Homo sapiens: one gene and its partners. The protein of the gene in region 1 purifies or fractionates together with the protein of each later gene. This does not show direct contact. Each region holds a gene or a part of one and is shown in the gene's direction. Other genes may lie near its edges.

Region 1 (3,500 bases):
CACTTATTTATTTTTATTTTATTTTATTTTTTACTTTTTGAGACAGGGTCTTGCTCTGTCACCCAGGCTGGAGTGCAGTGGCATGGTCACAGCTCACTGCAGCCTTGACTTCCTGGGCTCAGGTGATTCTCCCACCTCAGCCTTCCAAGTAGCTGGGACTACAGGCATGCACCACATTGCCTGGCTAATTTTTTGTGGAGATGGGGTTTCGCCATGTTGTCCAGGCTGTTCTTGAACTCCTGGGCTCAGGCAATTTGCCTGCCTCATTCTCCCAAAGTGCTGGGATTATAGGCGTGAGCCACTGCGCCCAGCCTTACTTATTTTTAAATCAGATTTTTTAATCAACTAAAACAGCTATGAGTTAAGTACCTGCCCTGCAAAAATTTTTAGAAAAAGTTTTAGGATTATGAAATTAAGAATTATTTTCCTTAACTGGAACAGTTCTAAAATTTATCTGATACTTCTCTAACAAGTGAGTGATCTCATGTAACCCCAGTTTGTATCTTAAAGGCTGCAGCATAGAATTGAGCTGTATAACAGTGTTAGAACTGTCAAGTGATAATCACAGAACAGTTTGTATCGGTTTTATAATTCTCATGTCTTGATCAGATCTGAAGGAAATAGGCATACCCTCCAACATTCTAAAAATTATTTATTTTTATTAGGATTTGTTTATTAAAGTTCCACGAGCTGCTTTATGGTCAGTTGGGCTGAGTAGTAGATATCTTAAAGACATGCAGTGAAAGTGAACCCTGTCATATCATGGTGCCTCTTTCAAGGTTCCTCTGTAAGTTCCTCATCTTGCAGAATTATTTCAATACCAAGGTATGGTTGAACCAGCTGTCCAGCCTTAACTCTATTTAGTGCCCCATTACTAATGTTCTTTTAACTGGTTTGTATGTGTTTTAACTGTCCAGTGTTTGGATTTTACCTCTTGATAGCTCCATTTGTCCCTGGTGCTGCTTTTAAGGATGTAGGGCCATGTGATCAGGTATCAAGTTGAGTAGGTACGCAGTTGGCCTGGTGATGTATCTGTGCCTGTTTTATCTTCTCCCAGGAAGAGCTGCTTTGGTATAGTTGTTTACTTGGATTCATACAAAGAACAGGGCAGCAATCTTGGAAAGCTTTCTGAAGCTTATAAGAACCTGAAGGGGTTTGGAGGGGGAACAGTAACAAAGGCTGCCTTTATGTCTTTGGTCACAAAGCACATAGATGTATGTTCTGTAAAGACTAAAGTGATTGTTATACCAGGGCTTCCTGACCTTCGGGAGAGACTCAAAAAAGCAGAGAGGAGCACAAAGTGAAGTTAATTTGGTTGGCTTGCTTTATCTGGTTTCTCATTTTCTTTCAATTTAAACCTGAACATAACACCCTTCTCCGATACCTATCCAGCAGACTCCTGGTTGGGAAGCCCTGTATTAAATTTTGAGAATGTACACAGTTTTCTTTTGTACAGTGCTTTACAACTGCTAAAAGTTAACTTGTTTAAAGCAAAACAAGACCTTGAAAGGTCAATCATATTAAAGCTGGTTTGATTATTAATAGTTATCTTTTAGGAAGAAGCTTTTTTCCCTATGTAAGATGTCATACTGCAGATTTAAAATATAGACTATCAATAAAATGCATGAAGTGATCATTTGTGCTTGATCATCTCTCCTTGGGTTTTTCTTTAAAAAGGGGAATCTGCTATAAAGGTTCTGTTGCTTCAAACCAATGTCAAATAGACTTGATTTTTAGAGTCATGGAATTACAGTGCAACCTTGATTTTTATTCCCCTCACTGCTATGAGTGTGGGCAGGTACTGGTTTATATGTTATAACTTCCGTTTTATCTGTGTTGTGTAGTTGAATGGCTTAATCGTTGAGTGGTAAAATAAAAGATTATATTCCAATACAAGAATCCTGGAAAGATTTATGTGAATGACATTTTAAGTAGGCGCATCTTTGCTGTTTCTTGTATTCTCGCCATTGCTCTGACCACTCCCTTGCTTGCCCTGTATATATACAAAAACTTGTAGGTGTGCACGTGTGCTTGTACTTCTGTCTTCCATTTCTATCTTAATCTCTTAAACATATTGCTTAAGCCACTAAGATGTCCTTGTTTCAAGTAAATCGTCACATTGTGACACCTGGTGTATTGTATTATAGTTTCATTTCCTCTGGTGCCTGCAGAGCTATCTGTCATTGGCATCATAACTCGGTTTCTCAGGATAGTTTTGATGTAGTCAGCTCTTCAACTCATGACCTTCCCAAGGTTTTAAGTTTAGTGTCATTCATGATTTTATTATTTGAAACTCAATACCACCATCAAAAAGTTAGTGCTCTAGACAATGAAGCCAAAGCACAGGCATCTTAGGTCAGTGAAAAGGATCCAGACATAAATTAGCCAGGTGTGGTGGTACACAGCTGTGGTCCCAGCTACTTGGGAGGCTGAGGTGGTAGAATCACTTGAGCCCGGGAGGTCAAGGCTGCAGTGAGCCATGATCATGCTGATGCACTCCAGCCTGGGTTACAGAGCAAAACCTTGTCTCAAAAAAACCCCCAGATACCTAGAAGAAAGGATTCGATAAATCTGGGTGGATTATAAACTGAACTCTTAATGGTCATTTTAAAAAATAAGAAAGCAAGGGTCCAGTTTCTTTGAGGTCTTTGAATTTAGACAAGATTTAACTATAAGGCCTTGCATGGATTACTAACTATAATTAAATTAGCTAAACTTTTCTGGTTGCTGTCAGGCATTGTATTAAGTATTCTATATAAATTATTTAATCATCACAGTGACTGTGAGGTGAAAGTATACCACCCATTTTATAGGTAATGCAGCTGAGATACAGATGTTTGGTAATTTGCCCAGGTCACATAGTAAGTAGCAGATTATTTGCAATCATCTTTGATGCAGTCATCTTCCTTGTGCTCTTAATCCCACTACTATATGACTTCTAATTTGTTTCTTAGTATTTATCCCAAGCCCTAGACTAGATTGCTTATGAGGTGTGATTTCTTAGGAAAAACATCAGTTTTGGCTGGTTTGCCAAGAAAAAAAAAGGCCAAATTGGTTTTTGTTTATTTTTTTGTTTGTTTGAGATGGATTCTCGCCCTGTCGCCCAGGCTGGAGTGCAATGGTGCGATCTTGGCTCACTGCAACCTCTGCCTCTGGGTTCAAACGATTCTCCTGCCTCAGCCTCCCGAGTAGCTGGGATTACAGGCGCCCGCCACCACGCCCAGCTAATTTTTCTATTTTTAGTAGAGACAGGGTTTCACCATGTTGGCCAGGCTGGTCTTGAACCCCTGATCCCATGATCTGCCCGTCTCGGCCTCCCACAGTGGTGGTATTACAGGCGTGAGCCACCACGCCCGGCCGCAAATTGTTTTTTGTTTTTTTGTTTTTTGGAGGATTAATGGTAATATACTGTAAATTCAGTAAAGCACTGGGCATTACCAGATACACCTTAGCACTATGAATAACATGAACTATCATTTTAGCAGTTTAAGTGTACCTTG
Region 2 (3,500 bases), on another chromosome or scaffold:
TCCAAGGGATTTTACAGTTTGGTTTTTGCACCTAACTGGCCATGGCCTTGGCTCTGGCCCTATCTTCTTGACATCTTGGCAGGTCTACCAACTCTTCTTCAGTTACAGTCTCAGAGTTAGCCAGTGGCAATGACTTTCCAGTTCTTGGCTGGTTTTTGATCTGTAAGAGTGACCTTGGGCAGGTTACCTCTCAAAGCCTCTGTTTCTTTATCTGGAAACTGGGGATGATTATACCCCTTCTCCTTGGAGTTGTGAAGAGAATAATGTAAAGCAACTGGTGTAATGCCTAGTACCCAGCAGGTGCTCAATAAATGGTTTATGTGCTGGTGAGGCTGGTACTATGGATATATGGTATAGAGTAGATAAAGTTTTAATATAAAATCCCTGCATTAGGCATAGAAAATATAACTAAGGAGACCAAAACTGCAGGTCTAAGAGAGGACAACTAGATATGAAACATATTATATTGGTGATCACAACAAAAATGGTGGGGTGTAGGGAGAGTGACAGTTCAGGGTTGTTGGCAAATGTTTCCTGGAAGATAACTTTATTGCACCTTGAAAAGTCAGTAAAGTGTGTCCAGGCAGGGAAATCCTTTTCTTTGGAGCCTGTGTGGTGGACTTGAATGTGGAAAAGATGCCAGTATCCTGTTTCTGCCTGGCTTGGCTGATATTTAACTAGGCTGCTATGGGGGGAAATCAGAATACCTCCAGGTGCTCACCTGGTGTTGGCCTCAGCACTGGGGCAGTCAGCACTGAGGTGGCTTCTGTTTGATTCCTCTAAGCCCTGGGTGCCCATGTGACTTGTATACACCCAGGTCATAATCAGTTTAGCATAATGCCAGATACGTACATAGCGGGCATCCGATAAAATGAAGGAAGAAAAGTACAGGGGAGGGGAAGGGAAAGTAGGCAGGCTTAACTTTGTTGGGCTTCAGTTTTTCCTCTGTAAAATGGAGTTGGACCAGATGCTGGTGAACATTTCTTCAAATCTCCCACTCTGACGTTCTGCTTCAGAACCTCAGACATAAAAGGATTTGGAGTGTCTTCCAGGCCGCCTGCATGTTTCTCTCTGCTGGTAGGCACAGCCCCCAAGCAGTGAGGATGTGTGATGCATAAACACCTCCAGAGGAATCGTTCTACTATTGCTCTTGAACAATTCTTCCAGTGTTTAGAAGCTCTTAAGGCTTAAATATTCTATGCTGCAGCCTAAGCATCATTCCTCTTCTCTTCTTAGTGGAGATAAAATTACCCACTGCTCTCCTTACATTTACTTTGTCCATATTTGCTCCTATGCTCTAGGCTCGTGCACAACAAACACAGTGTGGGCCCTTACCCTAGAAGCCAACTTCTCATGACCTTTCTCTATCTCCAGAATCCATGCAGTGGGAATGAAGGTAAAAGAAGGTTTTCATGGGATCCAGCTGAGAGCTCTACGGGGAAAATGGATCTGAGGAGCCATGTGCTCCATCTCTTTTATTTTACAGGTAGAGACTAGGGGTATAGAGTGAGGTGAATTACCGCAGTGACCCACACATTGTTGGCAGACCTAGGATTAGAACTCTGTCTTCCTGGTTCCCAGCTTGGTGCTTTTGAAAGCATACTTGCTGCTTTCTTACCGGCCTGGTGTCTGCCACTTTGGGACAGAGTGTGGACTTGCTCACCTGCCCCATTTCTTAGGGATTCTCATTCTGTGTTTGAGCAAGAATATTCTTATTCTGGAAAGAACCACATACCACAGGATTCTGGGTGAGCATAAGGAAGATTGTCTTGGGGATCTGACTTAGCTCACGTATAGTGGCTATGATGAATTCAGTGTCTTATTTTTTGCATATGTATATTTTTAGTCTAATATTGCCTGGGTGTCTGAGCAAGTCTAGATGAATTTAATTGCTCTCATTTTTCCCCTGCCCCTCTTCCTTTGGTCTCTCTTTTAGGAAATGTTTTTCTTTCAACATTCGTTTCATTCATTATTTACTCATTCGGCCAACCAACATTTATTGAGTGCCTTCCCTGTATCAGGGACAGGGGCTTACAAAGTAGAATTTGATCCCACCTCTGCCCTCAGTAGCTCAGTGTCTAATGGAGGTAGTGATGTTCATTAAGCGTCGCCAGATACTGTGCTAGGTGCTGTGCCTGTTCTCTCTCGCTTGTTCCTCACACACTTGAGAAGGCCGAAGCTGATTCATAGCTTGGAAGGCAGGGGCCTTGGATTTGAACCCAGGCCTGACCAATGGCAGAACCTATCAGATGTGTGGACAGATGACATTGCCTTTCTTTCTTTGGATATATCAAAATCAGCCAGCAGGCAGGAACTCCCATTTTGAGCAAGCAATGTGCAGGAATGATAGGGTATACAGAGAGGAACAGGAGATGGCCCCTGACTTCCAGCATGTGTCTGATGGACATCCAGGCTGCAGGCATCATGGTGCTGTCTAGAGAGATGAGCCAGGTGCCCAGAGCCCATGGGCCAATGCTGCCCTTTCTTGAGCATGCCAAACAAAGCGGTTGGTGTGTTAGAGGCACAGTCTCCTCCACTCTAAGTAAAAATCAGCATGAGTCCTAGCCCACATTTCCCTAGTGAGTATACCAAAGATATCTATGAACTGGCAGTCATCAGTGACTTCCTAAGGTTCCGGAAATGCATCTCTTACTCAGGAGTAAGCAATGATGTGCCTGCGGCTTTACGAGTTCTCACAGAATGACTTTCTGGACCCAAATGTTTTTTCTGCTTCAGGACTGTGAAGGCCTTATTGTTCGCTCTGCCACCAAGGTGACCGCTGATGTCATCAACGCAGCTGAGAAACTCCAGGTGGTGGGCAGGGCTGGCACAGGTGTGGACAATGTGGATCTGGAGGCCGCAACAAGGAAGGGCATCTTGGTTATGAAGTAAGTCATGGAGGCTGCGGGCGGTTTGGGGGTAGGGGGGTGAGTGCGGAGACTGACCACACCTAGGGAGAAAAAACTCACTTGAGAGAAAGCTGAGTCCATTGGAAGGGCTTCCAGGAGGATGCCTGGTCTAGGGCCTGCATGGTCAACACACACAGCATAGTGGTTTCAAGGTTTTTGGAAGGCAGCTATGCTCACCACTATATCACCAATGCCATCAGGGTGTTACACAGTTTTTGAAATTGAGAGTCCCTGCATAATCTCAAAATGTTTCACGAGCCCACCCCATGCGCAGTTGCTTGCACCTCTGTGACCTGGTTCAGGAATCGGAAGGTCAGTGAGTTCATCTGCATTTCCTGCTCCCACCCAGCCCCCTCTGCCTCTATTAATGCTGTTTGTGGCAGGTTTTTGTCAGCTCTACTTTACTGTGCTTGTACAGAGGCACAACCTTTGCTAGCAGACTAATGACTAGAATCCTTGCCCTCCCCACTTCCCTGCCACCTTCTGGAACTAAGACACTAGTTTCTCTTTCAGTGCTCTAGGGCAAGAGGAGAAGGGTCCCATTTAAAGCTGTTTCTGCAGAAACACAGGGGCAGAGGTCATCAGCACGCC
Region 3 (3,500 bases), on another chromosome or scaffold:
TTTGTATTTAGTAGAGGCGGGGTTTCACCATGTTGGCCAGGCTGGTCTTGAACTCCTGGCCTCAAGTGATCTGCCTGCCTCAGCCTCCCAAAGTGCTGGGATTACAGGCGTGAGCCACCGCCCTCGGCTGGAATCACTTCTTTAACATGCACAGCCCCAGACCTCAGTCTCTTGGAGATTCTAACTGTGTGAATTGGGAGAGAGAAAGGGGAATCTAGATTTTTTTTTTTTTTTTTTGAGATGTGGTCTTGCTATGTTGCCTAGGCTGGAGTGCTGTAACTATTCACAGGTGCAGTTATAGCACACTACCACCTCAAACTCCTGGGCTCAAGAGATCCTCCCACCTCTGCCTCCCGAGTAGCTTGGACTGCAGGTGCACACCATCTTACCCAGCTGAAATCTGCTTTTTTTTTTTCTCAGTGCAGTGGCACAGTCATGGCTCACTGCAGCCTCGACCTCCCAGACTCAGGTGATCCTCCCAACTTCAGCCTCCTGAGTAGCAGGGACCACAGGCCTGCACCACCTTGCCCAGCTAATTTTTGTATTTTTTGTAGAGACGGAGTTTCGCCAGTTGCCCAGGATGGTCTTGAACTCTTGGGCTCAAATGATCCGCCGCCCGCAATGGGCCCAGCTGGAATCTGCATTTTTTTGTTTTTTGTTTTGAGATGAAGTCTCACTCTGTCGCCCAGGCTGGAGTGCAATGGCGCAATCTTGGCTCACTGCAACCTCCGCCTCCTGGGTTCAAGCCATTCTCCTGCCTCAGGCTCCCAAGTAGCTGGGATTACAGGCACGTGCCATCACACTTGGCTGATTTTTGTATTTTTAGTAGAGACAGGGTTTTACCATATTGGCCAGGCTGGTCTCGAACTCCTGACCTCAAGTGATCGGCCCACCTCGGCCTCCCAAAGTGCTGGGATTACAGGCATCAGCCACTGTGCCTGGCCTGGTATCTGCATTTTTATGAACAGCCCAGGAGGGTGTAATGCAGAGTCCTTGGCGTGCACTTTCAGCAACACTGCAGTAAGGACTAGAAATCGCACATCAAATGCTGGCAGAGTGCCTGGTGCTTAGTAGGTGCTTAGTGAGTGTTTGTTGAGTGAATAAATGAACAGGAATGGATGGAGAACAGGAACCCAAAGGAATGGATGAGTAACCTTATTTCCTTGGTCCTTGTCTGGAAACTGGGGCAACTGGGGCTGGGGTTCAGGTGAGTGGCCAGCCAGTCATCTGGTCTTTGCCTCCCCCTCATTTTTGCCAGGCCTCACATAGACGGTCAGCCATTGGATCATAGGAACTGCCCTGGCCTGACTCACCCAATATGGAGGAGGTGCCTGGGGATGCCCTGTGTGAACACTTTGAGGCCAACATACTTACCCAGAACCGCTGTCAAAACTGCTTCCACCCTGAGGAGGCCCATGGAGCAAGATACCAGGTGGGCCAGTTTTCCACGTGGTTGGGGTGGTTTGTGATGGGGGCATGGGTGAAGGACTGGGCCTGTGGTGTCCGCTAACTCGCAGTTGAACCCAGATGCTGGACTTCCTCCTGTCGAGAGCCTCGGTTTTCCCACATTGCAGGGAAGTGGTTGAACCATGTGAATGTTTCACAATCTTCAGTCACTTTCCTCCTGCTTATATGATACGATTGTTACCATAGCCTTATCTAATCTGTTACTTACTTTGTTATTCTTTAAATCAACATCTTTTTCCCCTTCTATTGAAACAAAACTTCACATCATCAACACAAGTAGAAAACTAGAATTACTTCCTGTTAAGAAGAAGAGGTTAAGAAGAAAGGTAGAGGCTGGGCACGGTGGCTCACGCCTGTAATCCCAGCACTTTGGGAGGCCGAGGTGGGTGGATCACCCGAGGTCGGGAGTTTGAAACCAGCCTGGCCAACATGGTGAAAATTAGCTGGGCATGGTGGTGCATGCCTGTAATCCCAGCTACTTGGGAGGCTGAGGCAGGAGAATCACTTGAACCTGGGAGGCGGAGATTGTGGTGAGCCGAGATCGCGCCATTGCACTCCAGCCTGGGCAACAGAATGAAACTGTCTCAAAAAACAAAACAAAACAAAACAAAAAAGAGAAGAAAGGTAGAAAAAGAAAAAACAAAACAGAAATGTCGTTACACCCTAACTTGAGAGTGTTTTCTTTTTCTTTTTCTTTTTTTTGAGACAGAGTCTCACTCTGTCGCCTGGGCTAGAGTGCAATGGCAATGGTGTGATCTCAGCTCACTGCAATCTCTGCCTCCTAGGTTCAAGCGATCCTCCCGCCTCAGCCTCCCAAGTATTGGGATTACAGGTGCCTGCCACCATGCCCAGCTAATTTTTGTATTTTTAGTAGAAACGGGGTTTCGCCATATTGGCCAGGCTGGTCTTAAACTCCTGACCTCAGGTGATCCACCCGCCTCAGCCTCCCAAAGTGTTGGGATTACAGGCGTGAGCCACCGCGCCTGGCCTCGAGAGTGTTTTCTATGGAAGGCTCTGAGCTTGCATCCTGCTGTCTCTTTGTCAAAAAGGGAGATTAGCAGATGTTAGAGAGATGTTAAGAATACACCAGCATCATCTAGAGATTTTCTTTCTCTCTCTCTTTTTTTTTTTTTTTTTTTTTTTTGGAGATAGGGTCTTGCTCTGTAGCACAGGCTGGAGTGCAGTGGTCCAACCTATAGTACATGGCTCACTGTAGCCTCGACCTCCCAGGCTCAAATGATCTTCCCACCTTGGCCTCCTGAGTAGCAGGGACTACAGGCACATGCCACCATGGCCAGCTAATTTTCTTGTAAAGATGGGATCTCACTATGTTGCCAGGGCTGGTCTCAAATTCCTGGGCTCAGGTGATCCTCCCACCTCAACCTCTGTAACTGCAGGGATTACAGGTGTGAGACACTGCACCTGGTCTCAAGATTTTCTTCTTCAAGTTATTGAAGGAGTGAAGAAGAATCCTTTTTTTTCTTTCTTTTTTTTTCATTTGAGACGGAGTCTCTCTCTGTCGCCAGGCTAGAGTTCAGTGGCTCAATCTCAGCTCACTGCAACCTCCGTCTCCTGGGTTCAAGCAATTCTCCTGCCTCAGCCTCCTGAGTACCTGGGATTACAGGTGCCCACCACCATGCCCAGCTAATTTTTGTATCTTTAGTAGAGACAGGGTTTCACCATGTTGGTCAGTCTGGTCTCGAACTCCTGACCTTGTGATCTGTCTGCCTCGGCTTCCCAAAGTGCTGGGATTACAGGTGTGAGCCACCGCGCCTGGCCGAGATTTTCTTCTTCAAGTTATTGAAGGAGTGAAGAAGAGTCCTTTTCTGACTTTGTGATTGATGTAGTCTGCTGCCAAGCCCCCATGCATGTAAACACAGAGCACCTGATACACACGCAATGAGAAACCTGGGACTCACGAACCTCCGAGGGCCCTTCCAACCTTGACCACCATGGCTTCGTCATTCCCATTGGGGTCTGAAGGTCCTCTTTTTTTTTTTTTTTTTTTGAGACAGAGTCTCGTTCTGTTGCCC
Region 4 (3,500 bases), on another chromosome or scaffold:
GGGAGGGGAGGGGAGGGGCAGGGAGAGAAGCCCAGTGCGGGAGGGGAGGGGCAGCAGTAGCTACAAGGCGGGGTGGGGAGGGCAGGGGGAGAGTGCCAGGTGTCCCTCATACCCCTGTCCACTCCTAGGCCTTTGGAAATGCCAAGACCCTCCGGAACGATAACTCCAGCAGGTTCGGGAAGTACATGGATGTGCAGTTTGACTTCAAGGTACCATGGATGTGTGTGTCGTGAGGATTCCCATTCAGTAGGCTCTACACGTGTGAAGCACCTACTGGGTACCAGGGACTATTCCAGGTGCTGCAATTCCAGCAGTCAAACAAAGCAAACAAAAATCCTGCCTTCCAGGGTGATAAACAATAAACAGGGAAATTGAGGCCGTGGCAGAAAATAAAATGCAGTAAGGAGTGGGGGGCAGGTGCGGTCGTATTAGGGTAGGCCTCACTGAGAAAGTGGCATTTTAATAAAGGCTTGACAGCTGGGTAGGGTGGCACATGTCTGTTGTCCCAGCTCCTCTGGAGGCTGAGGCAGGAGGATCACTTGAGGCCAGGAGTCCAAGGTTACCCTAAGCTATGATCATGCCACTGTACTCCAGCTTGGGCTACGGAGTGAGACCCTGTCTCTAAAAAAAATAGAAAATAATGGCTTGATGGAGATAGGAGCAGGCTGTGCAGGTGCCTGTCCAGGCAGCGGGAACGGAACAGCCAGGACAAAGGCCTGAGATACGAGGGTGCTGGAAGTGTTCCAGGACAGCACGGAGGCCACAGCGGCCAGAGAAGAGAGCAGGGGCCCGCGAACAGAGAGAGGCCAAACGGTGCAGGCCCTTTTGGGTTGTTGCAAGAACTTTTTTTTTTTTTTTTTAACTCTGAGTAGAAGGGGAGTCATCGGGCTGGGTGAGGTGGCTCATGCCTGTAATCTGAGCACTTTGGGAGGTTGGGGCAGGTGGATCACGTGAGGTCGGGAGTTCAAGACCAGCCTGGCCAACATGGTGAAACCCTGCCTCTACTGAAAATACAAAAATTAGCCAGGCACGGTGGTGTGTGCCTGTTGTCCCAGCTACTCAGGAGGCTGAGGCAGGAGAATTGCTTGAACCCGGGAGTTCGAGGGTGCAGTGAACTGTGATTGCACTACTGCACTCCAGCCTGGGTGAAAGCAAGACCCTGTCTCCAAAAATAAAAAATAAAAAAATGACTTTAGCTGCTTCACTGGGAGATTGGGAGTAGACGAATAGATGGGAGGGGAACCAGGCTAAGCAGGGAAAACGGTTAGGGGGCTGATGTCATCATGTAGGTGACAGGTGACATTGGCTCAGACCAGTGTGGTGCAGTGGAAGTGGCGAGCAGTGATTGGATTCTGGATGTTTTAAAGGTTAAGGCAGCAGGATGAGCTGCCTGATTGGATGTAGGGTTTGGAGAAACACAGGCTTCCAGGAGGACTGCCAAGTCCTTGGCTTGAACAACGAGAAGGATGTAGTCACCACTGACCAAGGAGGGCAGACACTAACAGGAGCTTGTTTGAAGAGGGAGAAGGTCCGGTGTTGAGCTTCAGGCCTGTTGAATTTGCGATACCTGTCAGGCATCCAGGTGGAGCAGCCAGGTCGTTGGAGTTGAATCTCCCCATTTCCTAGATGAAGTAACTGAGTCCAGCGTGGGTGGCGTGCCTGAGCCGACGCAGCTAGTGGCAGGGCTGGAATTGGCATCCAGGTCTGGCTGCCAAAGCCCAGGAGTGCAGGGGAGAAGAGGGGCAGGTGGGCTCTTTTCCCAGTCCCCGTGACCCGGCCTCATGCCCTGCCCTGCCCACAGGGTGCCCCCGTGGGTGGCCACATCCTCAGTTACCTCCTGGAAAAGTCACGAGTGGTGCACCAGAATCATGGGGAGCGGAACTTCCACATCTTCTACCAGCTGCTGGAGGGGGGCGAGGAGGAGACTCTTCGCAGGCTGGGCTTGGAACGGAACCCCCAGAGCTACCTGTACCTGGTGAAGGTGAGTGGCTGGCAGGGAGGGCAGGTGCCACCCAGGGATCTGGTGCCAGGGCTGGCAACCCAGCTGTGCCCTTCCTCCAGGGCCAGTGTGCCAAAGTCTCCTCCATCAACGACAAGAGTGACTGGAAGGTCGTCAGGAAGGCTCTGACAGTCATTGATTTCACCGAGGATGAAGTGGAGGTGAGGCCTCTTCCGGGACCCTCGCTTTCCTCCTGTCACACCCCCAAAATCTCCTTTTTTTTTTGTTTTTTATTTTTTGAGACGGAGTTTCATTCTTGTTGCCCAGGCTGGAGTGCAGTGGTGCAATCTCAGCTCACTGCAACCTCCGCCTCCTGGGTTCAAGCAATTCTCCTGCCTCAGCCTCCCGAGTAGCTGGGATTACAGGCGCCCGCCACCACGCCCAGCTAATTTTTTGTAGTTTTAGTAGAGACGGAGTTTCACCATGTTGGCCAGCCTGGTCTCGAACTCCCGACCTCAGGTGATCCGCCTGCCTCAGCCTCTCAAAGTGCTGGGATTACAGGCGTGGGCCAGTAATCCCTTTTTTTTTTTTTTTTTTTTTTTTGAGATGGAGTCTCGCTCTTTCGCCCAGGCTGGAGTGCAGTGGTGCGATCTCAGTTCACTGCAACCTCTGCCTCCAGGTTAAAGTGATTCTCATGCCTCAGCCTCCTGAGTAGTTGGGATTACAGACACCTGCCACCACACCTGGCTAATTTTTGTATTTTTAATAATGATGGGGTTTTGCCATGTTGGCTGGGCTGGTCTCGAACTCCTGACCTCAGATGATCCTCCCGCCTCAGCCTCCCAAAGTGCTGGGATTACAGGCGTCAGCCACCGTGCCCATCCCACCCGCAGAATCACCTTCCACCTTTAACACCCATTCCCACTTCCAGCCCCTTCTCTCCGACACTTCACCACCCACCCCTGCATGGCCATCTGCTAGTTGCCCTCTTGGGGCTCTCTGGCCCCTCTCACCCCCTCCTGCCCCCGGCCTGCTCCCCCAGGACCTGCTGAGCATCGTGGCCAGCGTCCTTCATTTGGGCAACATCCACTTTGCTGCCAACGAGGAGAGCAATGCCCAGGTCACCACCGAGAACCAGCTCAAGTATCTGACCAGGGTGAGTGGGGCGGGCAGAGGGCGACGGGAGGACGGCGGGGGCGGGGGCTGGGGGTGCACCCTCACCGTGTCCTCGCCTGCCCTTGGCAGCTCCTCAGCGTGGAAGGCTCGACGCTGCGAGAAGCCCTGACACACAGGAAGATCATCGCCAAGGGGGAGGAGGTGAGGCCGGGCCCTTGCCCTCGGGTGTGGAGGGGCAGCTGTTCCAAGGCAGCCCCTACTCCCATCACTCCCCTTCGCCTGGTTCCCTCAGCAATGCTGGAGGGATGGAAGGAAGGCTGCTCAGAGAAGCAGAGTGAGAGCCGAGCGCCGTGGCTCACGCCTGTAACCCCAGCACTTGGGGAGGCTGAGGTGGGCAGGTCACCTGAGGTCAGGAGTTCGAGACCATCTTGGCCAACATGGTGAA

The links. The genes of interacting proteins can lie anywhere in the genome.
Region 2: the proteins of RLIM (region 1) and PHGDH purify together in Homo sapiens (affinity purification with mass spectrometry, with the first as the bait; one study listed by BioGRID). This does not show direct contact.
Region 3: the proteins of RLIM (region 1) and TRIOBP purify together in Homo sapiens (affinity purification with mass spectrometry, with the first as the bait; one study listed by BioGRID). This does not show direct contact.
Region 4: the proteins of RLIM (region 1) and MYO1C purify together in Homo sapiens (affinity purification with mass spectrometry, with the first as the bait; one study listed by BioGRID). This does not show direct contact.

What each region holds. Positions count from the first base shown.
Region 1 is NC_000023.11:74,583,625-74,587,124, reverse strand, and holds part of RLIM (E3 ubiquitin-protein ligase RLIM), read left to right. Parts: 3' UTR 1-3,500. UniProt on the Homo sapiens protein: E3 ubiquitin-protein ligase.
Region 2 is NC_000001.11:119,718,434-119,721,933, forward strand, and holds part of PHGDH (D-3-phosphoglycerate dehydrogenase), read left to right. Parts: intron 1-1,444; exon of another isoform or gene 1,445-1,459; coding exon of another isoform or gene 1,460-1,486; intron 1,487-2,736; coding exon 2,737-2,888; intron 2,889-3,500. UniProt on the Homo sapiens protein: Catalyzes the reversible oxidation of 3-phospho-D-glycerate to 3-phosphonooxypyruvate, the first step of the phosphorylated L-serine biosynthesis pathway.
Region 3 is NC_000022.11:37,700,048-37,703,547, forward strand, and holds part of TRIOBP (TRIO and F-actin-binding protein), read left to right. Parts: intron 1-1,258; 5' UTR 1,259-1,318; coding exon 1,319-1,432; intron 1,433-3,500.
Region 4 is NC_000017.11:1,479,187-1,482,686, reverse strand, and holds part of MYO1C (unconventional myosin-Ic), read left to right. Parts: intron 1-128; coding exon 129-209; intron 210-1,801; coding exon 1,802-1,981; intron 1,982-2,061; coding exon 2,062-2,160; intron 2,161-2,981; coding exon 2,982-3,095; intron 3,096-3,184; coding exon 3,185-3,256; intron 3,257-3,500.